Homo sapiens: one gene and its partners. The protein of the gene in region 1 interacts with the protein of each later gene in a pairwise test. Each region holds a gene or a part of one and is shown on either strand. Other genes may lie near its edges.

Region 1 (10,117 bases):
CTCTGTCTGTCTGGACCTGGGACATGGCACATGGTCCCCAATTTGTGGCCAGTGCGACAGCACCCACTGTCTCCACAAATATATATTTTATACAAATAATATTTTCTGCTGGGGGAAAAACATAATGCAGAATTTACAGAGAACCTATACAAGGAAAAGTTCAGAGAACAGACTTCAGAGCCGGACTCCCTGGGTTCAAATCCCTGCTCCATGATTGCCATATATCACTAACCTCTCTGTGCCTCGGTGCTTTTATATATAAAATAGGGATAATAATAACACCCACCTCAGAGGGTTGCTGAGGGTTTAAATGAGTTAGTATACATAAAGCACTTAGAATAGTGCCTGGCACAGGATAAGCATGATATAAGAGCTAACAAGATACTGCAAACAAACTCTGACACATGCTACCCACGGATGAACCTTGATGACATTATGCTAAGTGCAACAAGCCAATTACAAAACAGCAAATACTGAATGATTCCACTTATATGAGATACTTAGAGTGTACCTCATATAAGTGTACCACATATAATTGAGGTACACTGTAAGTACATTCTAGGTACATACAAAATTACAGAGACAGAGAGTAGAATGGTGGTTGCCAGGAGCTAAAGAGAGAAGGATGTGGGGAGCTATTGGGAGTTTAATGGGTACAGAGTTTCAGTTTCACAAGATGGAAAGAGTTCTGGAGATGGATGGTGGTGATGGTTGCGCAACATTATGAGTGCTTTTAATACCACTGAACTGTACCACTTAACATGGTTAAGATGGTAAACGTTATGTTATGTATATCTTACCACAATAAAAAATTAGAAAAAATAATGTTTAACAGAACATGTATCTAAAAATATGTGGGGTTCCCATGGCATATGTCTATCCTTGTATGTGTATAAATATACAATACTGACATTAATCACAAGTAGGTTAATCTGCTCTTATTAAAATATATTTAATCCACGTAATATAAAAAAGATTTTGCAAACTGACAATATCTATGAAAATTAAAAATGCATATGGCCTTAAACCCAGAAAGTCCACTTGAAAGAATCCTACACGCTGACAAATGTGTGACGTGACACATGTATAAGGCCGCCGACTGCAAACTCGTTTGTCATAGCAGAGGCTGAAAATGACTTAAATGTCTACCAGTAGGGAGTGATTACATAAATTATCCTTTTTCCATACAGTGAAAGAATGCAGAGCTGTAAAGAATAAGGAAGTTCTTTACAAATGTATATGGAAACATTCCCCCAGATAAACTGATAAATAAAAACTGGGATCTGCACAATGCTACCACTTGTATAACTAGGGGAAGAAAAGAAACTACATCCAACCAGGCGCGGTGGCTCATGCCTATAATCCCAGCATTTTGGGAGGCTGAGGCGGGCAGATCACTTGAAGCCAGGAGTTCAAGACCAGCCTGGCCAACATGGCAAAAACCCATCAGCACTAGAAATACAAAAATTAGCTGGGCATGGTGGCCCATGCCTTTAATCCCAGCTACTCAGGAGGCAGAGGTGGGAGGATCACTTGAACCCAGGAAGCAGAGCCAAGATTGCACTACTGCACTGCATCCTCCTGAGTGACAGAGGGAGATGGGAAGGGAAGGGAAGGGGAGAGGAGGGGAGGGGAGGGGAGGGGAGGGGAGGGGGAAAGAAACTACATCCACCCATAAAGACATGTCAGTGTGTTTTGCTTATATTTGCATGGACTATCCCACGAAGGATGTTCTCGGGATGCTTCTAGGTGGGTGGATGAGGTGGGTGACTTAATTCTCTCCCTTTGTATCTTGAACCATATACATTTTATATTCTCAAAAATAAATAACAGTTTACAACATCTATCACAGCGGTCTTCACACAGTTGGTCCCTAGCTGGAAGTACCTTCCACTCACATGTACCTGTGGAGCTTGGCATCTGGTCACCCTCCGGCGGGGCATCCACCTCTGAGATCTGAACTTTGGGCACAGTCAGGGGCTTCAGAGTGGTTCTGGGAGTGGAGAAGACAAAGGGGAGGGGGGAGACTAGTTTAAGCCCTGTGGAGAGACGCCCCCGCACCCGCTGGACCCCACTCCTGAAAGGGGAGCACTTTGCTAGTGCCAGGCTGGGTACTGGCACACATCAGGTGATGAAGGGTGCAGATGGGCTGCGCGGAGCATCCCGTGAAAGGCTGGCCCAGCTCCCAGGTCAAGCAGTGGGTGGGGCAGGGGGAGTTCCGGAGGGAGAAGATGTTCTTTTGCAGCAACTGCAGTAACACACCCAACCAATTCATCAAGCCCAGGATGGATAATACCAAGGAACAAAACCCACGTGTTGCCTGCACTGCTTCTAAGCATGTATGGATTCTATGGCTTACTTGGAAAACTCTAATAGTGGCCATTCGTTTTGCAGGGTAAGATTCCAGTTTAGACTCATTGCTGTTGAAGAAATAACTCATAATTGCTTCTGGCATTCAAAAGGAATGGAAAGTAATAAGTTGGCCACAACAAGGGCAGGGGCAGCTTTGGAAGGGACACTGACAGTGTTCTCAGCGTTGCAAGGATGGAGTCCTCATCCAAGCTGAAGAAAGGGTTACAAGCAGGCAGTCCAAGCTGAGACCCTGGTTTGCCATCATAACTGGCAAATAACTTCTCAAAGCCAAAAAGGACAAAGGGAGCAGCTCAGAAAAACATCCAAAATCAACAGAGGATTTGGCTAGAAAGGAGAATCATATTTGACCAATTAGGAACAACCCATGGTGAGAAGAGCATGGGCTCCCTGGGACCCAGTAGAGATAAACCTCATGTTCTGGGGAGGATCGTTTTAAGGAAGGACAATTAAAATGGAAAATCTGAAAGAACTTCCTATTGTAATTTAACTCATATACTTCTGAACCACAGAATGGACCTGGTCAGAGCTTCTGGGGAATGGTGAACACTTGGCACCCAGAGCAGCGACTCCCACTCCCTGATTTAAAGCCTTCATTCTTGCTGAAGCAGGAACCGGTCTCAGCATCCTTATTTTTTTTTTTTATTTTATTTTTTTGTAGAGACAGGGTTTCACCATGTTGCCCAGGCTGGTCTTGAATTCCTGAGCTCAAGTGATCACCCGCCTCAGCCTCCCGAAGTGCTGGGATTATAGGCACGATCCACCACGCACAGCCTCAGGATCCTTCTTAAGACAGCAGTCTAGGCATTCACTGTATTATAGCTGACATCTAAATGACACCATTTACCATTCCTGAAAATTCTACCAAAGTATTTTGCAGAGTCAGCCAGGACCAGCTTGATGCCGCAGAGAAGGGAGAAGAAGCAGGCGGACCGAAGGACCCTTTAGCAGCCCAAACCAAAGGCCACAGGCTCAAACGAAATCTTAAAAATCATCTCACTTAGGGAATAGAATAGTCTGGGGGTCAGGGTCAGGCTGTGAAATGGGCTTGGCCATTGGCAGTCAAATACAGCAATAATACAGTATAGTATAACAAATACAGTATAGTATAACAAATACAGTACAGTGTAACAAGTACAGCTGGGCATGGTGGCTCACACCTGTAATCCCAGCACGTTGGGAAGTCAAGGTGGGAGGATTGCCTGAGGCCAGGAGTTTGAGACCAACCTGTGCAACATAGTGAGACCCCATTTCTACAAAAAACATGAAAATTATCCAGGTAGGGCCAGTATGGTGGCTCACCCCTGTGGTCCCGGAACTTTGGGAGGTCAAGGAAGGTGGATATCTTGAGGTCATGAGTTCAAGACCAGCCTGGCCAACATGATGAAACCCCCTCTCTACCAAAAAATACAAAAATGGCTGGGTTTGGTGGTGGGCACCTGTAATCCCAGCTACTCAGGAGGCTGAGGCACGAATCGCTTGAACCCGAGAGGCAGAGGTTGCAGTGAGCCGAGATCGCATCACTGCACTCCAGCCTGGGCAACAGAAAAAAAAAAGGTCGGGGTGGGGCGGTGTGCACCTATAGTCCCAGCTGCTGGGGAGTCTGAGTTGGGAGGATCACTTGAGCCTAGGAGGTTGAGGCTGCAGTAAGCTGTGATTAAGCCACCGCACTCCAGCCTGGGAAACAGAGTGAGACCTTGTCTCAAACAAAACAAAACAAAAATATGGTGATAGTGCTGAAAAGCAGAGCATGAAACCTGCAAAGTTAGATGAAACCAAAGAACCTTAACCAGACATCCTAGCACCTATGGGGTGGGCAACAATTTTCCTCCTTAAATCCCCTTGGAAAGAAACCAGACCAGCCCCAGGGCTGGCCACATAGTAGGTTTCTCTCAATTGTAGAGAAACATAGATTTGGCTGTGGAGTTTAGCAAAATGTTCAATGTGGCCAACAGAGAGGGCTTGGTTTTCATTTAAACCAGAAAAAAAGGTCACTGTGGTTTTGGCTGAGAGGCGAGCACACTCCACCCAGGCTGGGGCCGAAGGCAGTCAGCATCAGCAGGTTTCAGGATGGAGACAGGCTAGTCACTTGATCCTAAAACTCAAGTCCCAGAAAGACAATAAAGAGGGCATGCCTTGCTAGAGGCATTTGGCGGCGCATTTGGCGGCTTATTCAGCCATGGAGGATAAGGAGGGATGGACTAGGTCTTCCCAGCCCTTCTGGTGGGAACTTAGACTACCACCATCTCACCAAACCCTGGCTCCCCGTATGGTCTGCAGGGAGCAGACCCCTGGCTGATCTCGCTTGGCTGACTCTGACAGAGCCTGACATTCCTTTTCCTCTTCTAGGTTCCCCCAAGATTCAGAGAGCTTTGGTCAGAAGGTTCAAGTCATAAATGCTTTGGAGTGGGGCTATTCTATGAGGAGTGGTCCCAGTGGGGAGGGTGCTGGGGCATGGGGCGCCCTGTTAGAAATATACAGGCTGGGCCTCACTAGCCACTAGCAGCTCCACTCAGAGACTCCTGAGTTCTCCCTAAGGGAGGACTCTGACTCAGCAGCTCCCCTCGTATGACTCAGCAGCTCCCCTCCTGTGACCTCATCAGTGATTGCAGTGACAGGAAGGGGGCTCAATCACAACCACATCTGCTGCTTGTTCCTCATTCCAAGGCTAAGGCAGGTGGGCAGTAGAGGTAGTAGGAGGAGGAGCCAGGGTCAGGGCTGGCTGGAAGAAGGCAGCATTTATCTGCTTGAGAACACATAGAACACCCAAGCATCCCAGTCATCTCCCTGCCCCGTCTCTCCTCACTCACCCCTGAGCCCCCAGGTTACAGCCAGAGTGCCAGGAGGAGGAGGATGGAGGGGGTCGAATGCGTTCGTTGTCATCCTGCATCTGCAGGCGAATGGGCCGGCGCAGGCCCCAGGAGATGTTCAGGAGCCCCTCCACAATGAACTCGTCTTCTTCCTGCCCACAAAGCAATCAGAGTAGTGAGCCTAGAAAAGCCCCCACAGAAGCCAAGACCATGCTGAGGGACAAATGACACATTCTTCACATGTCCTGGCTGGGGGCCCCCAGACTGTATTCACAGGATAGGGGCAGCTGCCCAGTTCACACCGCAGCTCTGAGATACTTTCTGACGTCAACTACTCCAGATCCTGAAGCTGACCTCACAGGTCAGCACAAAAGTTGCTGTGAAATTCAAATACATAGGTATAAATTATAAAAAGCATTGTTTTTCTTTTTATCCTAATGACTTTTAAAGAAAGCGGAATACATTTCTTAAAATAAGTGAGATTAGCCTTGTTAACAGAAGCAAGAACTGGAGTTAGCTACGTCCCATCCCCTACTACGGAAAATGATGTCTCTTTAGCTACAACATCTGTTTAGCAATCCAACCTGGTGGTTGAAGGAAATTTAAAGCAACATTTGCCGAAGTTTATTCTACAGAACACTAGCTCCTCTAGCAGATGAACTGCTGTCTTTAAAAGGGTGTCAAGTGATCATGAGCTGGGAGAGGCTGTGCTAATCAGATTTCCAAACAGCAGAATGTCCCAGGTTCTGTAATAAACTAACGGGCTAAATGACAACTCTCCAACAGGTGAATAAATCTTGCAGGAGTCCCCAATTTATACTCAAAGGTTGCTGACTAATTAGACATTAAATGTAAAACCATTCTAGAGGCATTTATATGTTCTATCCCGAAGAATTGGGACTCGCTTATGACTATGAAATCCTTTAATCATGAAGCACTTTTAATCATTTATTCTATAGGACATAACCCAGGAAAGCTATTTAAGAACTAAAATCTTGCATGGCCCAGCTGCTGATTAGTAAAAGCTTGAAGGGCAGTTCCTAAAAGAATCGGTTCTCCTCCCTCTAGTCTCAGAAAAACCTTTTTGGAGCCATGTTTTATGGGCTATTCAAGTGTTAGATCTGGGTCATGGAACACATCTTCAGGACAAGCCCCATAGGTGAAAATAACATCAGCCCATTGAGCAACTAACTAACTTGGGCCCCAAAATCATCCTCAAAGAGGGAGGAAGGAATAAAAGAGGGAAGGAGAGAAATGAAACAATTTTACGGTGCTTAGGCGTCTCAGGGAGGAAGGCTTTATGTAAACATAGGCAATTTACATGGCCTTCCCCTGGTCAAGGTGGGCATCATTCCTTTACACAATTGTAGGTCAAAATTTAACCCAAAACAGGATTTTGTCTAAGTGGAGTGGTTTGAGGGACACAGAATAGGCCACTACATCCCACATACTGTCCCCAAGCAACCTGCCCTAGCAGCTGAAATTCCACCATCTGTTATCTGTTTCTATGGTTAAATCGCCACAGCTTGATAACCTGAAAATGTGTTTCAAAGGGCATTACACATAGGGACCTTTTTATCAGTCACAGGCGCTTGAGTATAAAGTACCCTACCAGACTCCTTTATAACTCATCATCTATCTGATAACAGGCTTTAGAGAAATGGATACAGGATGAGTAAGCTCAGTTTCAGGATGGGAATCAGATGAGTAACAAAAGCAACCTAGGATGACCAAGTGTGGGGACGGGCCCACTATCAGTGGGGACTCTGCTAACATCCAGAGCTTATGTGCTTTGCCCAGGTCACTGCAGTGATAGGACTTGGGCCCAAATGTTTAAACACAGAGGACTGGGTGGGGTTCCCGAATTGCCCAACGAGAGAACGTCTGCTTGGGAGCCACCTGGAAAGGTCATTTCATGAAAGCTCCCTCTGGAGAATCTCCCCCATGAGACTGGGCTAGCCCTGCCACATTTCTACAGGAATGTCTCTGGAACACATCTCTGAAACATTCATCCTTTTTGGAACAAAACTGGGCCTGGAGTCTTCTTCCAAAGAACCCCAAGGACTCTCACTAGCAACCTAAATAAGAAGCAGGAGAGGCAGGGTTCTCTTGGGACCTCAGGGACCTTCAGACCCAGGACACATGGTGACAAGCCCTGGACTAGCCAATCAGGGCCGTCCCTGGGGACTCCTTACCTCCCGGTGCCGGAGCTGTAAATTCTGGCCTTCATAGTACAAGTTGTAGGTCTTCAGATGCAAGAGAAGTTCATTTCTTAGGGGGAAAAATAGAAGAGATATAACATTATCAGCTGAAGCCACTTATAATGCAGTTGTTCCCTCTTTCTCTCACCTCTCACCTGGCCTTCAGTCACCCCACTTTGGGTAACTGTCCACATGTACATACACACACATGCACATGCACACAGAGTTCTGCCACCACCACCCCATAACCATCTTCCCCCAGGATCAAAGTCAAGAGTGAGCACCACCCCAGAACAATGCTTAAAGTAAGGAGCAACTCCAGGACACCAAGGCAGGCCTCGTCTACCGACAATACTCCCAAACTCAAGCTGAATGAGCAGGTGTTAATAAGCCATGGATTCACTGAGGCGAGCACTTCAGAGCCCACACACAGCGATTCTCCTGCATGGCTGTGGCCTTTTCTCCCTCAAGCACGCTGTGAGTGAGGAAAGGACAATAATGATAGGCCTTCACAAGACTCAGAAGCTGGCTGCGCGCAGTGGCTCATGCCTGTAATCCCAGTACTTTGGGAGGCCAAGACCAGCGGATCACTTAAGGTCAGGAGTTTGAGACCAGCCTGGCCAACATGGTGAAACCCCATCTCTAACAAAAATACAAAAAATTAGCCAGGCGTGGTGGTGCACACCTGTATTCCCAGCTACTCAGGAGGCTGAGGCAGGAGAATCACCCAAACCTCAGAGGCAGAGGTTGCAGTGAGCTGAGATCGCGCCACTGCACTCCAGCCTGGGCAAAAGACTGAGACTCCATCTCAAAAAAACAAACAAACAAACAAAAAAAAAAAAACTTGCAAACTCCCATCAGCATCAGAATGGGTGCATAAAGGAAGCAATAGCCACACAACGGAAAATTATCAGCGAAGAGAATGTGAATGAACTACACAACTACACGCATGTGTGTGACTCATGGGAATTATAGGATATGTGCTTTTCTTGTGTCTAGCTTCTTTCACAAAAAAGCACAGATCATATTCCATTGACAGAAAGTTCAAAATGGAGTGTTAGAATTCAGGATAGTGGTTCACCTTGGGGAGTAGTGACAAGAAGTGGGCATGAGGTGGCTTCTGGGCCCTGGCAATACTTTTTCAGTTCTAAAAATTAAAAAATAAAAACCCTTAGAAACTCCCCCTCTGAAGCCCAGCACTGGACCTCCTTAGCCACCAAGTTTTCCAAGTGGCTGCACTGGGAGTACAGCTCTACTGCACGTGGCCAGAGAGGAGATTTCACCCCCTTTGTGATCAGGGAAATCCCTCATCAACCCTGAGAATGCACAAGTCAAGTTTCATCTGAAAGTGCATGTTTTGCACTCCAGGTGGGATGAGAGGGGCGAGAGGTGGAGGGGGCCACTGTGCGCTTTTGTCTAGTCTCAAGTAAGAGGTGGCAGAGTTCAGCCTCTCTGAACCCAGCCATTCAGTGGAGAGATTTTGGACCACGCCAGGAGTCAAGACCCACTGGAAATGCCAAGAAAATCCTGACAAGTTAAACCTAGATAAAGCAGCATGATTCTATGCAAGCTGAAATAAATTTGTGGAAAATGTGATTCGAAATCACCTAAGACAAAAGGCCGTTTGGTACTTTTGAACACACAGATCTGAAACCGGGAGAGAAAATCATTGGTTGGTAGAAGTCCCTGGGGAAATCTGTCCACAAAGAGATAAGAATGGTCAGATGTCACAAAACATGTGTCAAGTGTGCCTAAGGACTTCCAACAATTTAGTCCCAGATAAATTAAATATTTCGTTAAGATAGAGAAATCCCAGCTGGGTGTGGTGGCTCACGCCTGTAATCCCAGCACTTTGGGAGGCCAAGGCGGGTGGATCACCTGAGGTCAGGTGTTCAAGACCAGCCCGACCAACATGGTGAAAGCCCACCTCTACTAAAAATTAAAAAATTAGCTGGGTGTGGTGGCGCATGCCTGTAATCCCAGCTACCTGGGAGGTTGAGGCAGGAGAATCACTTGAACCCAGGAGGCAGAGGTTGCCATGAACTGAGATCACGCCACTGCACTCCAGCCTAGGTGACAGAGGGAGAGTCCTTCTAAAAAAAAAAAAAAGAGATAGAGAAATCTTATGCTGGAACTTCCAATTCAAGGGTCTATTTTGGCTCAAGCCCAGTCACATTAGCAAAAAGCCTGAGCTCAAGAGACTTTAGTGCACAGAAAGCAATTAAATTGTCCCCTTCTATTCAGAGGGCATTAGCCAGACCCAGAGCAGCCGAGGGACACACTACTCCAGCCAGGACTCCCTGGGAACACAACGGACAGGACGGGGAGCAGTGTCTGAGTCCATTCTGGCTGCCGGACCATAGACTGGGTGGCTTCTAAAGAACAGAAATTCATTTCTCACAGCTCTGGTGGCCAGGAAGTCCAACGTCAGGGTAGAGTCAGTGTCTGGTGACAGCCCTATCCTCACAGACAGTGCCTTCTCACTGCGTCCTCACACCGCGGAGGAAAAACAATCTCCCTTGGCCTTTTATAAGGGTACTTAGATCTAATCACATCCCAGAGGCCCCACCTCTTATACCAGCACCTTGGGGTGAAGTTTCCACATAGGAATTTGGGGGAGACACAAACATTCAGAAGATAGCGAACAGCCACCAGCCAACTCCTCCTCCTGGAAGTCTTCCAGGATACCACATCTTTTGAGCCCCCAAAGTTTCTGCGTCTTGACTTCCCCTTTAC
Region 2 (10,957 bases), on another chromosome or scaffold:
AAAGTGCTCGGATTACAGGTTTTCTTTTTTTTTTTTTTTAGACAGGGTTTGACTCCGTTGCCCAGGCTGGAGTGCAGTGGCCTGATCATGGCTCACTGTAGCCTTGACCTCCCAGGCTCAAGCAATCCTCCCACCTCAGCCTCTTGAGTAGCTGGGACTACAGGCATACACCACCATGCCCGGCTAATTTTTGTATCTTTTGTAGAGACAGGGTTTCGTGATGTTGTCCAGGCTGGTCTCCAACTCCTGCGTTCAAGCTATCTGCCTGCCTCAGCCTCTCCAAATGGTAGGATTACAGGTGTGAGCCACTGTGCCCAGCCCAGGCTGATTTCTCACCCCACATACTTAACAACCAAACACATTGCCTTTCAGTTATTATACCATTTATTCCTGTCATTGCCATGAACAAAATGGAAGCAACCAGGGTGATAGTTGCAGCCAATAGGCACTGACCAAAGAGAACAGCCGCTGATTGTATCGGTTCAACTATTAAGAGCCTGTCCTCCAGCTACCAGGCTGATGTAACCAACTCTTTTTTTTTTTTTCTTTTGAGATGGAGTCTTGCTGTGTCGCCCAGGCTGGAGTGCAGTGGCGCGATCTCGGCTCACTGCAAGCTCCGCCTCCCGGGTTCACGTCATTCTCCTGCCTCAGCCTCCCGAGTAGCTGGGACTACAGGCGCCCGCCACCGTGCCCAGCTAATTTTTTGTATTTTTAGTACAGACGGGGTTTCACCGTGGTCTCGATCTCCTGACCTTGTGATCCGCCCGCCTCGGCCTCCCAAAGTGCCGGGATTACAGGCGTGAGCCACCGTGCCCGGCCATGTAACCAACTCCTATCATCTTTGAGTTTGTCATATATTTTTTTTTTAATTTATTTTATTTTATTTTTATTTTTTTTTTAGGCAGAGCCTTGCTCTGTTGCCCAGGCTGTAGTACAGTGGTGCCATCTCGGCTCACTGCAACCTCCACCTCCCTGGTTCAAGTGATTCTTCTGCCTCAGCCTCCTGAGTAGCTGGGATTGCAGGCACCCACCACATTCAGCTAATTTTTGTATTTTTTTTAGTAGAGATGGGGTATCACCATGTTGGCCGGGCTGGTCTTGAACTCCTGACCTCAGGTGATCTGCCTGCCTCAGCCTCCCAAAGTGCTGGGATTACAGGTGTGAGCCACCACACCCAGCCTGTCAGAATTTTTGAGAGAAATTTTAGAACATATTTTTTTTCCTTTTTAAAGCCAATTTAAATACCTCTGCTATGGGTTGCTTTTTTTTTTAAGGTAAGAAAATGAACTTTCTAAATTATCTTCAGGGGAACAACTTAGCAATCATTTAAAAACTCTTACTTCTTTTTCTATCTGTCTCTACTGATTCTACCAATGTCAATGGAGGAGAACAGAACGTGGCAGAAATATTATGAGAGATATGACTATTCCAGCAGGAACAAAATGATGGGAATATAGGATGATAACAGGTCAACTCAACTGGCTTAAACAAGGCAGTATCTAGGCCGGGCGTGGTGGCTCACGCCTGTAATTCCAGCACTTTGGGAGGCTGAGGCAGGTGGATCAACTGAGGTTGGGAGTTCAAGACCAGCCTGACCAAGATGGAGAAACCCCATCTCTACTAAAAATACAAAATTAGCCAGGGTAGTGGCGCATGCCTGTAATCCTAGCTACTCGGGAGGCTGAGGCAGGAGAATCGCTTGAACCCGGGAGGTGGAGGTTGCGGTGAGCCGAGATTGCACCATTGCACTCCAGCCTGGTAAAAAGAGCGAAACTCCGTCTCAAAAAAAAAAAAAAAAAAAAAGCAGCGAGATAATATCTTATGTCACATAACAAGAAGTCCTAATTAGGGTGGTGTCAAACCTGGTTAATCAAAGAGCTATGAAGTCTTTGTATTGTTCTGCTTTGCCATGGTGTCTATTTTGTCCACAATATGGCTACAGAATTCCTAGGTACCATATGCAAGCATGCAAGATCCAGAGGAAGAAGACATAGTCTTTTTTTGTAGGTTTCTTTTAAAAGTGAGGAACATCTTCCTAAAAGGCACCAAGCCAGGTTTCCTTCTGGTCTCAGTGGTCAGGTCTGTGAGACCTGTCCATGCCTAAAGCAATCCCTGGCAAGGGGAATGGGACCACTACGACTGACTCTGCACGTCAGGCCTTACCCCTGTGAGCTGAGATTGGACTTCTTTTCCCGAGGGGATTCTTGAATTAAAGTCCTTGTTTAGTTAACAAGAAAGAAGTGAGTGATGAATGTTAAGTATGCAATAAGGTCTAATATTTGGGGCAAGAAAGATGAATATTTGCTTGATCCTATTCTATGCCAAGGACTTTGCCTGGATTCTTTCACTTAATCCTTACAGTAAACCAAAGAAAATAAAATGAAGACATTGTCATCCCCATTTTGCTGCTGATGAACCTGAGGCATAGAGAAGTTAATTAAATTGTTAAAGGTCACATAAGAGTCAGTGATAGCCAAGGCAGGCAGATCACCTGAGGTCAGGAGTTTGAGACCAGCCTGGCCAACATGGTGAAACCCTGTCTCTACTAAAAATACAAAAATTGGCCGGGTGAGGCGGTGCGTGCCTGTAATCCTAGCTACTCGGGAGGCTGAGGCGGGAGGATCGCTTGAACCCGGGAGGCAGAGGTTGCAGTGAGCTGAGATCATAGCACTGCACTCCAGCCTGGGTGACAGAGTGAGACTGCGTCTCAAAAAAACAAAACAAAACTTGAACTTGGTTGCATACATTTAATTTTATTTATTCCACCCCCTTCCCTGAATTTGAAATGTTAAAAGTGTCTAGTTGCTTAACATGACATTTTGAATTTTTACAGATACAATTTTCATGAGCTAAATTTTAAATTCACAATATTTTAATTAAAAATGCTACCAGGCTAGGCATGGTGGCTCACACCTGTAATCCCAGCCTTTTTGGAGGCCGAGGTGGGAGGATCACTTGAGCCTAAGAGTTCATCAAGACCAGCCTGGGCAACATAGTGAGATCTTGTCTCTACAAAAAAAATATAAAAATTAGCCAGGCCTGGTGGCATATGCCTGTAGTCCCAGCTACTCGGGAGGCTGAGGTGGGAGGATTGCTTGAGCTTGGGAAGTCGAGGCTGCAGTGAGCCAACATGGCACCACTGCACTCCAGCAACAAAGTGAGGCCCTGTCTCAAAAAAAAAAAAAGCTACCAGAAAAATATGCAAATATCATTATGCTGCTTTTAGGAAACAAAATCACAATTCTTCCTTCCTTTATTTATTTATTTATTTATTTATTTTCTGAGGCAGAGTCTCCCTGTGTCGCCCAGGATAGAGTGCAGTGGCGTGATCTTGGCTCACTGCAACCTCTGCCTCCAGGGCTCAGGTGACTCTCCTGCCTCAGCCTCCCGAATAGCTGGGACAACAGGCATGTGCCATCATGCCCAGCTAATTTTTTTATATATTTTCAGTAGAGATGGGGGTTTCACCATGTTGGTCAGGCTGGTCTTGAACTCCTGACCTCAAGTGATCTGCCGGCCTCAGCCTCCCAAAATGCTGGCATTACAGGCGTGAGCCACCTCACTCGGCCCTTTCCTTTATTTATGTTTTTTTTGTTGCTTAAAAGCAGTGCTTCCATTTCATTATTTGATCATGGCTTTTAAAATTATTTTATTTATTTATTTTTTTAAGAGACAGACTCTTACTCTGTTACCCAGGCTAGAGTGCAGTGGTAAGATCATAGTTCATTACAGCCTCAAACTTCTGGGCTCAAGTGATCCTTCCACCTAGCCTCCTGAGTAGCTGGGACCACTAGCATGTGACACCACATTGGCTAATTTTTTTTTGTTTTTTGTTTTTGTTTTTGTAGAGACAGGGTCTCATTTTGTTGCCCAGGCTGGTCTTGAACTCCTGGCTTCAAGCAATCCTCCCACCTCGGCCTTCCAAAGTGCTGGGATTACAGGCGTAAACCACCATGCCTGGCCTAATCATGCCTTTATAAAAAAATCATTTTTTTTTAGAGAAAAGGTCTCACTATGTTGGTCAGGCTGGATAGGAACTCCTGAGTTCAAGTGATCCTCCACCTCAGCTTCCCCCTGTGCCCCACTCAATCATGCCTTTTTATTATAACTGATTCTGATGGTATGCTGACAGATATACAAATTAATCCAGTCCTTTGGAGCTTAAAAATAATACAATGAAAAAAATCATTTTTATGGTGTGGTGCATCATAAAGTTTATTTATTTATTTATTGAGACGAAGTTTTGCTCTTGTCGCCCAGACTGGAGTGCAATGGCGCCACCTCGGGTCACTGCAACCTAGGCCACTCCGGGTTCAAGCGATTCTCCTGCCTCAGCCTCCCGAGTAGCTGGCGCACGCTACCACGCCCAACTAATTTTTGTAGTTTTAGTAGAGGCGGGGTTTCACCACGTTGGCCAGGCTGGTTTCCAACTCCTGACCTCAAGTGATCCACCCGCCTCTGCCTCCTCAGGCGTGAGCCATCGCGCCCGGCCAATAAAGCATTTTAATGCATTTTTCCTCAAAGTATTCATAAACTTCAACTTGTTCTAGGTAAAATTATTTTCCCCTTTCTACCCACAATAAAATGAGTAATTTAAGCCCTTAACCTACACATTATTCTTACCTTGGAATATTTAATAAGAGCTGCGCTAATATTATATCTGAATAATGAAATAAGAGAAACCAAATAAGAAAAATTTGTCATAAAGCCCTATTCTCCTACATTAGATTATGTGCATGGCACACACACGGATCAGCTTAAGCTGGGTGAAACTATATGGAGTTAGAATTCCTGGCTTCCTATCATTCAGTAGCTGTGTGGCCGAGAAGAAGACTTTAATGTTGTAGGACCTTTAAAATGGGCTGTAACTCAAAGGCCCTCCTTCTGGAGTTGTTGTGAATCACGTGGGGTAATATATACTAGTTTACAAGATGGATGTGTAAGCCCGAAGGTGGAGCAGGTTTGCAAGCCTTCTTTCAGCCTAGGGACAGTAGGATGACTCATGAGTCAATTCTTCTCTCCTTCCCGTCATTTCGGGTCCAACTCTTCCTCCTGTAGTCCACAAAAGAGCACGGCTGACCGATACCAAGCAGAGAACCCAGTAGGGTATGTGACCACGTTCAGATCAACAGAACGCAAAGCAGAACGGTCCGAGTACTGCCTCCTACAGCCACTTTCCTTTCTTTAAGCCTCAGCTGCTGCTCTAGGTGTAAAACCGGCATAAAATAGCACTACGTACCTTGCAGAGTTGCTCGGAGGATTGAAGGAGATAATGTAAGAGAGTTTGGCTAGTTTGGCTATGATGGATGGACATTTTCTCTTTTCTAACGTCTCTCTTCCCCTCCTAATGAAACCTCTTCTGAAGCTCGCTAACTATAGCAGGGCTTGCAGCTTCAAAAAAACCTTTCAGTCAAGATCTTGAAATTAGTATTATTTAAATCAGTGCAGTAACACCAAGGTGTAAAAGACTGTTACCCACTGGTGGCTTTAAGAGGATTAGCTGACTGAAGAGTTTTAGAAAACATGGAAACTTTTTTTGTACGTGGATGGATGGAATTCCCTGATCTCCTTATCCCCACCACTTAAACCATGCCTTGTGGGTGACCGTGGAAGGCTGATTGTGGCGGGGACATTTACAAAGCACATTTAATTGATAAGCACTCGATTGTTCTGTAACTATAGAACTAGTTCACCTTTCAGTTGCACTGAGTGCGCCTAAGATAACGATCTTATTTGGAAGTGAGCCCTCGCTAGAAAGAAGGGGAAAAGGGTAAGACCGAAGCTCAAATGAATGACCAGAAAGGATGTTTTCATTCGAATAAACTCAACCCAGTTTTTGACCTCCCCACCCATCTCTGCCAACTTGAAATCCTCCTGGAGGGGCGAGCTGCTGGGGTTCAGGACTGGGCGTTGCGGCTGCAGGAAGCCGTGGGACCTGGGGGGTCCCTCGGCCGGGCAACCCCCACCCACCCCTACAGGACCCTGGTGCGGGGGCGAGCAGGGAGTGGACGCAGAGAAAGTTCCCCGCTCTGCTCCCGCCCTCTCCGAAACTCGAGCCAGCGAGGCTGGGGGCGGGCGGACGGCTCGCAGAGGAATTTGCAGTTTCCGGGAGGTTGAGGAAGCGACCCGAGCACAGCCCCAGCAGACGCAGCCCTAGCGCCCGGCTTTCCGGGTTCCGCGACGCTGTCGGGAGAAACCCGCGCGCCTGGAAGGGGCGGGCCGGGCTCCCCCCACCTGCGGGCGGGCGGGGAGGGTCGCGGCCGCGCGGGGTGGGGCTCGGCCGGTCGCCCGTCCGGGGCGGGGCCCAGGGAGGCGGGGTCGCGGGCGCACCGGGGCCGAGCCGCGCCTGGAGCCTGGCGGGGAGGCGGCAGGAGGGGCCGGGAGAGCCTGATTGAGCGGCGGCCGCAGCTGCATAAGGACTGCCCGGGGCTGCGCGCCGGGAACCTCGCGGGGCTGGCGGGCGCCGCACCCCCTCCCTGGCCGCCTGCGCCCCGGGGAGGCCGCCCGCGCGCGACGGGACCGGCAGCATGAGCAGCGGCTACAGCAGCCTGGAGGAGGACGCCGAGGACTTCTTCTTCACCGCCAGGACCTCCTTCTTCAGGAGAGCGCCCCAGGGCAAGCCCCGCTCCGGCCAACAAGTGAGTGGCGCGCGGCGGGCGCTGCAGCCCGCGCCCCAGAGTTCCGGGGAACCCGCCAGCCCGCGCCCCCTGCCTCCACGTGTCTCTGCGGGGCGCTCGGGGGATGCTCGCCGGGAAGGAGGAGCGGGCCGAGAAGTGGCTTCTGCCTTTTCGGGTCCCGGGAACGTGCCTGGAGCTTGTGCGTGTAGGCGAGGGAAGGCGGAGGAAGGGCGGGGAGGCTGAGGGCCGGCTTCTGCCTTCCGCGCCAGATGGCCTCTGCAGCTCCGCCTCGGGCTGCCGCCTGCGGGGAGCAGCCCCGGAGCCAGCAGGCGTCCCCGGGCCACTCCCCCAGGTTTCCCCTTCGCGTCCCCGCTGGGTCGACGGTCGGGTTCGCGCGCCTGTCCTTCCTGTTAGTCAGCTTACTCATCTGTGGCCCCCAGAGTGGCTTGGGTCAACGTGTAATAGCTAGGGGTGGCCGGGTGACCTGACCTCCCCTCTTCCTGGCCCGGGCGACCTGGTGGAGTGGGGGTCCAAGGGCACCGTGGGCCTCGCCACCATAGGCTCTCACTAAATCTCCGTTGCGGGACTCAGGGTTGTGCGTTTTCTGTAAAGCTAGGTTTTTTGGTGCCCAGATGTTTTGCAAACAAGCTCCTATGCTAAATACTAGCCAGCGACAGCTAACCTTTTCGCCGGTTTCTTCCTTTTTTGGAGGCAGCATGCCGTGGGAAGCACGAGTTGGGAAAAGATGGGAAGGGAACTTGTGCCAGTTTCGCCAGCTGTAGCCGTGTTTTTTGGGAGGCCTTCCCGAAACGGGGCACGTCGGCTGGACTGAGGAGCCCGGTGCTAGAGCCCGCGGCCTCCTGGCACTAGGAGCCGCACCAGGGGAGCCGGGCCAACCCGGCCACGCTCACATCAGATTACAGAAGATTGTAATGGCACAAATTTGTTGCTTTTAGAAAACAGGCGTTCGCCAAACATTTCTATTAATACCGGACTGAGACCTAGAGACTAGAAGCAAGAAGAATCGTTCAGGGGCCGGATGATAACTTCTTTTGGTGGATGTGGGAGGGTGCAATCTGTCAGGGTGGTCTTGCCAGACCTCTTAAGTTTAGCCACTTTCTGAAGTAAAATTCTTTCTAAAATTCGGAAGTTCTAGTCTTTTCAGGCTCTTAAGTCCCAAACCAGGAGGAGGAGAGGAGACGGTGAAGGGTAAGCTGAAGTCAAGTGCCCTTATTCAGTAACCGCAGTTAATCTCAAGTCCCGGTGCCATAGTTGTCCGTCTTGTATTGTTTCTAAGGCTTAAGGCCCCACTATTTACGAGTCACTTTGAGTGGGATCTCTTACTTTCAGCAGAGTGTGTTCTGAGAGCATGAGATTGCTGTGAAGTTTGGAAGTTGGAAACGCCCTCTCCTCCCCCATGCCCACCCTCCCTGGGTTGTAGAAAAATTGCATTTGCTTATGCTTTTTCCATTTTTGCTTTCTCTTTCTTGGCCTCTCTCTTCCCCTTCTCCGTTTTGCATTTTCTCCTTTCATTTATGTTGCTTTCACCACTTGACATGAAAAGGAACTCATGGTAGTTTGAAGTTTATTCCAGAGGTGTCTGCTAATCTCCTGAAAACTGGCTGGTTCTTGGATTCTCCAGGGGTGAGATGCCACAAGGGCCAAACTATTCAGGTTTGAATTGTATGAGAATCCTTTAGTGCTTTAAAGAGTAAAGACATCAGTTTTTTTCTAGGTTTATATGCATTTAGCGTTTCTTTTTTTTTTTTTTTTTTTGAGATGGAGTCTCACTGTGTTACCCAGGCTGGAGTGCAGTCGTGTGATCTCACTGCAACCTCAGCTTCCCTGGTTCAAGCGATTCCCTTGCCTCAGCTTCCCGAGTAGCTGAGATTACAGGCATGCACCACCACATCTGGCTCATTTTTGTATTTTTAGTAGAGATGGGATTTAACCATGTTGGCCAGGCTGGTCTCGAACTCCTGGCCTCAGGTAATCTGCCCGCCTTGGCCTCCCAAAGTGCAGGGATTACAGATGTGAGCCACCGCCCCCGGCACATTTATTGTTTCTATGTTGTATGCAATCATTTATGTATCATCTAGCATATATATTATACTCAGGGTAGTATTATTTAGCATTTAGAATTAGTCTAACATTAATATGTATTTTGAAATATCGTGTTGGAAATCAGGACAGGAAGACATAGTTCGTGGTTGAAGAGCTTCATATGTGTATTTGAAGCTTTATTGCCTGCATATTTTTCCCTTCTAACATAACACATGTAAGGTGCTGAGTTGTAGAAGTTATTTGCCAGGCAGAGAAAGTGTTCTAAACTACGAATTTTAGTGAGCATTGTGGTTTATTTAAAGAAGTGATATGAATGTTTTAAATTCCTGGTAAGATTGGTGAATTAGGGAAGTAAAACATCATAAATATAAAGCAAAACACTCTTAATGTAGAATGTTCCTTTTATCTAACGTTAGATAAGCCTTTTTCTTCATTTTCATGCTGATGATTATAAGAATAAGATAAGCACTTCTGACATACATCATAGTAGTGAAATTTATCCTTTCTCTAGAGAGATGGAAAGAGAGGTATTGCTAGAAGGATCTATTAGAGATACAGTGATTTTTTTTTTTTTTGGATGCTGTACCACCTGGTGGAAAAGTGAGAAAAATGAGGTTTCTAGATTTCTTGAAAATATCCGGAGAAAACAAGATGTTTGTGGTAAATGCAGAATGGGGAGAAAGGGGTGAGGGAGCGGGTGGACTGGAAATTTCTTTCTTCTCTTGCCAGGCAAGGGAACATAGTGCAACTTCTTTCTATCCCCAACAGTAACAAAAACCTTATAAAGAAAATGTTTTCATTTTTTTTCTTACTTTAAACCCCATTCTTAACAACAAGAACAACAACAAAAATGGAAAAGGGTTAAAAAACCTGTCTAGGCCACGTGTGGTAGCTCATGCCTGTAATTCCAGCACTTTGGGAGGCTGAGATGGGAGGATTGCTTGAGCCCAGGAGTTTGAGACCAGCCTGGACAACATGGTGAAACCCTGTCTCTACAAAAAAAATGCAAAAATTAGTCAGGCATGGTGGTGCTCGCCTGTAGTCCCAGCTACTCGGGAGACTGAGGTGGGAGCATTGCTTAAGGCCGGGAGGCAGAGGTTGCAGTGAGCTGTGATCGCACCACTGCACTCCAGCCTGGGCAACAGAGCGAGACCCTGTCTCAAAAACAAAACTGTCTAAAAGATATAAAGGGAACGAACATATGACGTTTTGTGGCAGTTTGAATGTCATGTTTATTGTATCCGCAGGGTCTCGATCAGTACCTGATATACAGTAGTTGCTCAGTGAATGCAAGCTGAATGAATGAATGTTTTCCTGATTTGATAGTAACTGGGTCTTTACCATTTCTTTTTTTTTTTTTTTTTGAGATGGAGTTTCACTCTTGTTGCCCAGGCTGGAGTGCAATGGCGTGATCTCGGCTCACTGCAACCTCCGTCTCCCGCGTGCAAACGATTCTCCTGCCTCAGCCTCCCGAGTAGCTGGGATCACAGGCACCTGCCACCATATCCAGCTAAATTTTGTAGTAGAGACGGGGTCTCACCATGTTGGCCAGGCTGGTCTTGAATTCCTGACCTCAGGTGATCTGCCCGCCTCGGCCTCCCAAAGTGCTGGGATTACAGGCGTGAGCCACCGCACCTGGCCCCTGATCTTTACCATTTTCAAATGTACTGTATCTTATGGTGCTCCCAAAAACTGTATGAAACATTAACTTAATGAAAGGGGGAGGTATTATTTAGTGATTGTATAAGGCCCACACCTAGATAGCAAGAAGGCTGGAACTCAGGTTTTCAGACTCAAATTACACTCTCTATTTTGTTACTTTTTAGCTATAAAAATAATTTTATGGCTCCATATTCCCTTTGCAAATAAGGACACCTAAAATTTAAGAGTTTCTTAAAATTTCTTTTCTTTTCTTTTTTTTTTTTTTTTGAGATAGATTCTTACTGTGTCACCCAGACTGGAGTGCAGTGGCAGGATCTTGGCTCACTGCAACCTCCATCTCCCAGGATCAATTGATTCTCATACCTCAGCCTCCTGAGTAGTTGGGATTACAGGCACCCGCTGCCAGGCCTGGCTTTTTTTTTTGTATTTTAGTCTAGATGGGGTTTTGCCATGTTGGCCAGGCTGGTCTTGAACTTCTGACCTTAAGTGATCTGCCCTCCTTGGCCTCCCAAAGTGCTGGGATTATAGGCATGAGCCACCGCGCCTGGCTGTTTCTTAAAATTTCAACTCCCTGACCTGCATATAGTCATGACAGTGTTTATAATTTGTATTTG
Region 3 (9,254 bases), on another chromosome or scaffold:
AGGTGGATCACGAGGTTAGGAGATCAAGACCATCCTGGCTAACACAGTGAAACCCCGTCTCTACTGAAAATACAAAAACATTAGCCGAGCATGGTGGCAGTCACCTGTAGTCCCAGCTACTCGGGAGGCTGAGGCAGGAGAATGCGTAAACCTGGGAGGCGGAGCTTGCAGTGAGCTGAGATTGTGCCACTGTACTCCAGCCTGGGTGACAGAGTGAGACTCCATCTCAAAAAAAAAAAAAAAAATGCTGGGCGTGATGGCTCACACCTGTAATCCCAGCACTTTGGGAGGCCGAGGCGGGCAGACCACCAGGTCAGGAGATCAAGACCATCCTGGCCAACATGGTGAAACCCCCTCTCCACTAAAAAAAATACAAAAAAAATTAGCCAGGCATGGGGGTGAGCGTCTGTAGTCCTGGCTACTCCGGAGGCTAAGGCAGGAGAATGGCGTGAACCCGGGAGGTGGAGCTTGCAATGAGCCGAGATCACACCACTGCACTCCAGCCTGGGCAACAGAGCGAGACTCCGTCTCAAAGAAAATAAATAAATAAAAAATAAAAATAAATAAATAAATAAAAAAGATAAAGTGGTAGGCTTAAGCCCAAACATATCAATAGTTACATTAAATGTAAATGGTTTAACTATAAAAATTAAAATACAGTAACTAGCATAATGGATTAAAAACATGCCCTAATTATATGTTCTCTACAAGAAACTCACATCAAATACAATAACGTATGTTGAAAGTAAAAGGACAAAAAATTACACAAGCATTAATTTAAAATGTTATGTTAACATTAGATAAGTGGACTTCAGAGCAAACAAAATTACCTAACCCTAGCACTTTCGGAGGCCAAGGCAGGCAGATCATGAGGTTAGGATCAAGACCAGTCAGGCCAACATGGTGAAACCTCGTCTCTACTAAAAATACAAAAATTAGCTGGGCGTGGAGGTACACACTTGTAATCCCAGCTACCTGGGAGGCTGAGGCAGGAGAATCGCTTGAACCCAGGAGGTGGAGGTTGCAGTGAGCCGAGATTGTGCCACTGCACTCCAGCCTGGGAGACAGAGTGAGACTCCATCTCAAAAAAAAAAAAAAAAAAATTACCAGAGATGGTGAAGTACATTACTAATAATAAAAGTATAAATCTACCACAAAGGCATAGCAATCCTAATTATATATGTACCAAATAACAGAACTACAAAATATGTAAAGCAAAAACTGATAGTATTGAAAAGAGAAACAGACAAATCCACAATTACAATTGAAGACTGCAACATCCTTCTCTCAACAATTGATAGAAAAGCTAGACAGAAAATCAGCAAGGACATAGAAGAAATAACATGACCATCAATTAACAGGATTGAACTGACTTTTGTGAAACACTCAACAACAGGCCACACATTATTTTCATGTGCCCACAGTACATATACCAAGACAGACCATGTCCTAGGCCAAAAAAAAAAAAAAAAACCTTGAAAAATTAATACCCATTGAAATCCTAAGAGTGTGTTTTCTGACTACAGTGGAAACAAACTAGAAACCAATAACAGAAAGATAACATGAAAATTTTTAAACACTTGCAAACTAAACACACTTGTAAATAATACTTGGGTCAAAAAGAGGGTCTTAAGGAAAATTAAAAACACATTCAACTAAATAAAAATGTAAAGACGATATATCAAAATTTGTAAGATACTGCTAAAGAAGTCTTGAGAGGCAAAGTTATAGCATGAAATCCCTGCATTAGAAAAGAGGATATTTCAAGGCTGGGAGCAGTGGCTCACATCTTTAATCCCAATACTTTGTGAGGCCAAGGCAGGTGGATCATGTGAGGTTAGGAGTTCGAGACCAGCCTGGCCAACATAGTTAAACCCCATCTCTACTAAAAATACAAAAAGGAGCTGGATATGGTGGCAGGTGACTGCAGTCCCAGCTACTTGGGAGGCTGAGGCAGGAGAATGGCTTGAACCCAGGAGGCGGAGGTTGCAGTGAGCTGAGATTGCACCACTGCCCTCCAGCCTAGGTGACAGAGTGAGACTGTCTCAAAAAAAAAAAAAAAAAAAAAGGATATTTCAAAAAGTTGTATGAAAAGAAGAAAAAAGGAAGGTCTCAAGTCTGTATTTCTCATAACTACATGTGAATCTATAATTGTTTCAAAATAAGTTTATAATTATGTATTAACATACATATTTCAATCATTTAATAGAGCTTCAAAACATAAAATGTGAGATTTCCAGTTTGACTTTTTTGTAGCATGCTTCCATATACTATTCATAGATAGTCACAATAATTCTGAATGACAGGCCTTGTTGGTATTACTGACATTGCTAGGCTGCCTAGGTGTGAGGTGGTACTTACACAGTTTCATGATCACACACAAGTTTAAGAATGTCAGAAAAGAGACTGAAGTAGCCATTCAGCTATATGGTTTTCCAGAGGGAAAGCTTGGGTCAAAAATCAGAAATTGGCCTGGCACAGTGGTTCACACCTCTAATCCCAGCACTTTTGGGAAGTGGTTGGATCACTTGAGGCCAGGGGTTCGAGACCAGCCTGGCCAACATGGCGAAACCCCATCTCTATTGAAAACACAAAAATTAGCTGGATGTAGTGGCACATGCCTGTAATCCCAGCTACAAGGGAGGCTGAGGCACAAGAATCACTTGAACCCAGAAAGTGGAGGTTGCAGTAAACCGAGATAACACCACTGTACTCCAGCCTGGGTGACCGAGCAAGACTGTCTCAAAAAAAAAAAAAAAAATCAGAAATTGAATACCAAGGTCAAAATTGGTATTGAACCTCAATGCCCAATATTTTTATGTCAAAGTGCCAGTTTCCTGTAGGTGGACGTCTAGTTGGTTTCTTGCTTTTTGCTCTTACAAATAGTTCTACAATGACAATCTTTAAATATATATCTGTGTAGTCTTTAGGGTATCTATCTGTAGGTTAATTCCTACAATTGGACTTGTGGTCAAAGGTATACGTATTTAAAATTTTGATTGATAACGTCAATTTTCTATCTAAAAACCTTATACCAATTTGTACCTCCATACCTCTATGCACGTGTTGTTTTTCCACACATTTACTAACATTAGATATTATCCAACTTTATTTTTTGTCGTTAGAATAGGGTTTTTACTTTGTTTTTGAGACAGAATCTGGCTCTGTCACCCAGGCTTGAGTGCAGTGGTACAATCTCAGCTCGCTGCAACTTCTGCCTCCCGGGCTCAAGTGATCCTCCCACCTCAGCCTTCTGAGTAGCTGAGACTACAGGTGCGTGCCACTATGCCTGGCTAACATTTGCATTATTTGTAGAGACAGGGTTTTGCCATGTTGTTCATGCTGGTCTCAAACTCCTGAGCTCAAGCAGTCCTCCCGTCTTGGCCTCCCAAAGTGCTGGGATTACAGGAGTGAGCTACTGTGCCCAGTAGAATAAGGGTTTTAATTTGCTTTTGAAAAAATAGACTTTAGAGTAGTTTTAGGTTCATGTAAAGTTTAGTGGATACACAGAGTGCTCCCATGTTATACCTGCCTCCAGATGTGCACCGACTTCCCCATTATCAACATCTCCCACCACAGTGGTATATTTGTTACAATAGAACCTACGTTGACACATCATTATTACCCAGTGTCTGTAGTTTACACTAGGTTTCATTCTTAGTGTTGTACATTCTATGGGTTTTGACAAATGCATAGTGACACGTATCCACTGTTACAGTATGATACACAATACCTTCACTGCCCTAAAAATCCTCTGTACTCTATCTATTCAACATTCCCTCCCACTTGTCCCTGGCAATCACCAATCCCTTTACTCTTTCCATTGTTTTGTCTTTTTCATAATGTCATATAATTGGAGTTATATGGTACCTAGCCTTTTCAGATTGCCTTCTCTCACTTAATACACATTTAAGTTTTCTTCGTGGCTTTTCATGGCTTGATAGCTTATTTTTTTGAAAGCTGATGAATATTCCATTGTCTGGATATTCCACAGTTCATTTATCTAATTACCCACTGAAGAACATATTGCTTGCTTCCAAGGTTTGCCAATTATGAATAAAGTTGCTATAAACAGTCATGTGCAGGTTTTATGTGGATATAAGTTTTTAACTCATTTAGGTAAATATCAAGGGACACAACTACTGGATTGGATAGTAAGAGCATGTTCAGTTTTGTGAGAAACCACCAAATTGTCTTCCAAAGTGGCAGTGCCATTTTGCATTGCCACCAGCAATGAATGAGAGCCCCTGTTGCTCCACATCCATGGCAGCATTTGGTGTTATCAGTGTTTTGGATTTTGGCCATTCTAATAAGTATGCAGCTGTATCTCACTATTGTTTTAATTTGCAATTTCCTAATGACATATTTTGTGGAGGATCTTTTTATATACTTGCCATCTTTGTATCTTCTTTGGTGAGGTATCTGTTCAGGTCTTCTCTTCTTCTCCCTTCCTCCCTCCCTCCCTCCCTCCCTCCCTTCCTTCCTTCCTTTCTCTCTCTCTCTCTTTCTCTCTCCCTCTCTTTCTTTTTCTCTTCCTTTTTTTTTTTTTAAAGAGATGCAGGTCTCATTTTGTCACCCAGGCTGTAGGGTAGTGATCATATTTCACTGCTGCCTCAAATTCCTGGGTTCAAGCAATCCTCCCACCTCAGCCTCCCGAGTAGCTGGGACTACAAGTGCATGCCACCATACTGGCTAAAATTCTTTTTTTGTAGAGATGAGATCTCATCATCCTTCCCAGGCTGGTCTTAAACTCCTGGGCTCAAGTGATCCTTCTGCCTCAGCTTCCCACAGTGCTGGGATTACAGGTGTGAACCACCATGCCCAGCTTTCATTTTTTTTTTTTTTTTTTTGAGACAGAGCCTCACTCTGTAGCCCAGGCTGGAGTGCAGTGGTCCAATCTTGGCTCACTGCAACCTCCGCCTCCCGAGTTCAAGCAGTTCCCCCTGCCTCAGCTTCCCAAGTAGCTGGGATTACAGGTGCCCACCACCATGCCTGGCTAATTTTTGTATTTTTAGTAGAGATGGGGTTTCACCATGTTGGCCAGACTGGTCTCGAACTCCTGACCTCAGTTTATCTGCTCCCTTGGCCTCCCAAAATGCTGGGATTACAGGCATGAGCCACCACGCCCGGCTCAGCCTTCATTTTTTAAATTGGGTGGTTTGTTTTCTTATTGTTGAGTTTAAAAGTTCTTTGCATATTTTGGATAAGTCCTTTACCAGGTGTGATTTGCCATTTAAAATTCATGAAATGTGTTGGAGTAACTTTTTTATATGTTTACTGGCCATTTATGGCTCTTTTTTGTGAAGTGCACATTTTCTTGCAATTGGCATTAGCTGAATCCACTGCTAAGACTTCTCCCCACTTGGGCTTTCATGCATAGCATAATGGTATACACAATGCTTCGTCGGAATTTACCTGACTTAGAAAGAACATGCCTGCCCACCTTCCACAAGAAGCTGTACATCTGACTGTAATGGAGCGCTCCTCACTCTCCTCAATGCAGAGCAGAAATAGTCACAGCAGAGTGGTAGATAAACTTATAGTAAATGTGTCCAATTTAAATGTTACCATCATCAGCAGGAAACATACTACACAGCCATTGGCTGGATTTCAAGTGACTGTGTGGGTCTTTGATTTCAGGAAGTTCGTGAATGCTAATCAAGGGCTAAATAAAGTGGAAAGCAGCATCCTTGAAAATCATCGCTCTCAGGACGGGGTCTGCCTGGAATAGCACTGAATGTGTTTAGTAGTGCCTTTGGCTTGGGGGCTTTGGAGAAAGCTGCTTGAGCCCTTCCCATGCTCATAAATTAGGTAAGGAGCAGTGAGGAAGTGTCTACAGCAACCTCAGCCAATGTGATGTGCCTCTACAGCTGTATGAAGTAGATTCTCTGATTTTATCTTGAAATCCACAACTTCCACAAAAAAGAAAAATCTTTTACCATTTCTCATTAAAAAAGTAATATAAGTTTATTGTAGGGGGAAATAATCAAATGTAATCTCATTACCCAGATATAATCACTGTTAACTTCTTCATTCGAATTTTCCCTAGGTCCATGTATCTATATATCTATGGTTCATAAAAATGAGATTACACCAAAAAATATCTTTTGTTATCTATATAGTTCCAGCTTAATAAATATACAACTGTATTATTATTTTTGTCTGAATAGTATTTTCATTGATATATCACAATATATTTACTCCAATTCCCTATTGCATATAGATTATTTCTAATTTTTCTATTAATAATACTAAGGGAGCTTTTAAGTCAATACATCTGAATCTTGAATAAAATTCTTGTTCCTTCTCTTTGGATGGGTATTCAGACTCTTAATTTTACAAATGAAGAAATAAAGTCCCAGAAGGTAACAGAGATAGAACTAGGCACGATTTTCTATTCTTCTTTCCTTCCTTTCTTTGTGAGAGTTAACGATTATTTAAAAGTATTCATAATTTTCTGATAATAAAAGTAAGACATGGCATTATGACACTGGATATTCAAAAACCACGATGTCCTTTTACTTGAAGATTTTAAAAGGAAATGATTACAATAAATACCCAGAGTCAACAATTATCAAGTTTCTGTCATATTTGCTTCATCTATCTCTTTCCTTTGAAAGCGAATCCTAGGCCGGGTGCAGTGGCTAACGCCTGTAATCCTAGCACTTTGGGAGGTCGAGGTGGGCGGATCACTTGAGGTCAGGAGTTAGAAACCAGCTTGGCCATCATGGTGAAACCCCAACTCTACTAAAAATACAAAAAATTAGCTGGGCATGGCGGTGCACGCCTGTATTCCCAGCTACTTGGGAGGCTGAGGCGGGAGAATTGTTTGAACTCAGGAGGCAGAGGTTGCAGTGAGCTGAGATCATGCCACCGCACTCCAGCCTGGGCAACAGAGTGAGAGACTGTCTCAAAAAAAAAAAAAAAGAAAAAAGAAAGCAAATCCTAGGTACCATTTCATTTTATCCCTACATGTTCAGATATGCTGTTAGGGCTCAAAAGTGATACCCCAAAGACTGTGCTTTGACATGCTGAGAGGCCTTAGAAGCTGCCTCAGAATCAAGGTTCCCCTAACCTTGTCTTGTCTCCACCCCCTCCCAAGCATAGGGAGAGACTCTCTCTGGAATTTCCTTGTCTAACCAAGAAAGCTTTTTTCCAAAAGAAATGCAATTTTTCTTAGGATCCCCTCCCTAGGGGGTCTCAGCAAATAACCAGGAAAGATCACTCACCAGAGAAGAGAAGATGTTGGAAGTCATCACCATGCCCAGACAGACTTTTCTTCTATTCTTCTGAAGGAAGCTTCAAGAGATTACCTGGGAAACTTAATCTGCAAAATAAGATGACCTTTGTTCCTGTGCAGTTCTGCCCATCACCTTCCCATAATGTCTCCCTCCCACCTCCCAGGTTCATACATCTCTTCCCATAAAGAGAGTTTTTTTGTTGTTGTTTGTTTGTTTGTTTGTTTTTGAGATAGAGTCTTGCTCCGTTGCCCAAGCTGAAGTGCAGTGGCACGATCGGCTGACTGCAAGCTCCGCCTCCTGGGTTCATGCCATTCTCCTGCCTCAGCCTCCCGAGTAGCTGGGACTACAGGCACCCGCTACCACGCCCGGCTAATTTTTTGTATTTTTAGTAGAGATGGGGTTTCACCGTGTCAGCCAGGATGGTCTTGATCTCCTGACCTCGTGATCTGCCCGCCTCGGCCTCCCAAAGTGCTGGGATTACTGGCATGAGCCACCATGCCTAGCCAAAGAGAGTATTTAAGCAACCATCTAGCCCCTCTTAGAATTCACATTTTGTATGAATCCCATGCACATATATGCATCTTAATAAAATTTGTATGCCTTTTTTCCCAATAATCTGCCTTTTGTCAGCTGAGTTTTAGCAAGCCTTCAGAAGACAAAGGGGAAGTTTTCCCTTTGCCCCTACAATGCCTATGTAAAAAAAAAAAAAATGGGCTTCTAAAAAAACACAATACCATATCACACCTAATAATTTAATAATTCCGTGACATCATCTAATATGCAGTTCAAAATGAAATTTCCATGACTATCTCAAAACATCTCTTTTTACATTGGGTTTGTTTGAATCAGGAACAAAACAAGGCCCACAGATTACATTTGGTTCTTAAGGCTCCTAAATCTATATCAATCCTCAGCAGTCTTTTGTAATTTCCCCCCATGCCTATGTTGTAGAAACCAGGTAGCCCTGTGGAAAGCTTCATATTCTGGATTTGCCCATTTATTCCCATGTTATTTAATTGTTTCCTCTATCACCTATATCTCCATCAGTGAAGGTAGCTCTAGAGCCTGGATTAGAGTCAAGTTGGACTCCTGTTAAGAGTATTTCACAGGTGGTGCTGTGCAGTCAGTATTGCATTAGGAGCTATCTAATGCCTAGTTGCCCACTTTTAGAGTATAGTGGGCCCAGTGCTATGCCACCCCAATGGGGGAGGGCAGGCTAGAGGGGTGGGAGGGCAATACCAAGACAAATGCAAGATACCCTCCCACCCACGATGGTTCCTCTTCCACCTCCAACTACACCCTCATGGGTGTAGAATCAGATTTTGCTTTGAGATGGGAGAGGTTTCCTCATTCAGCCCAATCCACAACACCACCATAGCTCCATCATGGGCAAACCGTTTTTATAGACTTGCTAATTAATGTCTGTGGACCGGCAGCATTAGCATAGCCTGCACCTGAAAGCTTGTTGGAAATGCAGAAACTCTTACCCTATAATTACCAAATTAAAAATTGGATTTGTTGGGGCTCAAAGAAATGACACTCCAAAATATGGCACTTTGACATGCTGAACTAGAGAAGCAGCCACAAGGCCTCTCTGCCCTCCTTCCCCACCCCCCAATTCTCTGTGTCTCCCAAAGCATAGGATGAGGCTGTTCTCCGAAGATCCCTGATCTATCTAGAAACTGGGTCCACCAAAGAGAAACACAATTGCCTTTGATCCTCTCCCCTAAAATATCGCTAAGCAGAAAAGATTAAAACTCATATCTCAGAGGAAGAGATGATAATTAAACACCACACTTGGAGCCCAGACACTGTTCTCTGGTCCTGTTTGATTCCCAAAGAGAATTATTTGCTAGCCATGAACTGAACATTGGGCCCATTCATTACCCCTAAAAATCATTTACTATATAAATTGCCACATTTCCCTGCTCTTTCCTCCCCTGTGAAGAAAAGTATATAAGCATCTAGACCTCACTGGGTTTTTAGGTAATCATCCTCCTGGGATTCCCTTGT

The links.
Region 2: the proteins of RASSF2 (region 1) and RASSF3 interact in a two-hybrid assay, tested with the Homo sapiens proteins (one study listed by IntAct).
Region 3: the proteins of RASSF2 (region 1) and S100Z interact in binary tests that used the Homo sapiens proteins (3 or more experiments, as listed by UniProt).

Annotation. Positions count from the first base shown.
Region 1 is NC_000020.11:4,790,635-4,800,751, forward strand, and holds part of RASSF2 (ras association domain-containing protein 2), read right to left. Parts: intron 7,452-10,117; coding exon 7,376-7,451; intron 5,333-7,375; coding exon 5,181-5,332; intron 1,994-5,180; coding exon 1,905-1,993; coding exon of another isoform or gene 1,899-1,904; intron 1-1,898. UniProt on the Homo sapiens protein: Potential tumor suppressor. Acts as a KRAS-specific effector protein. May promote apoptosis and cell cycle arrest. Stabilizes STK3/MST2 by protecting it from proteasomal degradation.
Region 2 is NC_000012.12:64,604,106-64,615,062, forward strand, and holds the start of RASSF3 (ras association domain-containing protein 3), read left to right. Parts: upstream 1-6,389; 5' UTR 6,390-6,527; coding exon 6,528-6,638; exon of another isoform or gene 6,639-6,741; coding exon of another isoform or gene 6,742-6,816; intron 6,817-10,957.
Region 3 is NC_000005.10:76,915,077-76,924,330, forward strand, and holds the end of S100Z (protein S100-Z), read left to right. Parts: intron 1-5,640; 3' UTR 5,641-6,574; downstream 6,575-9,254.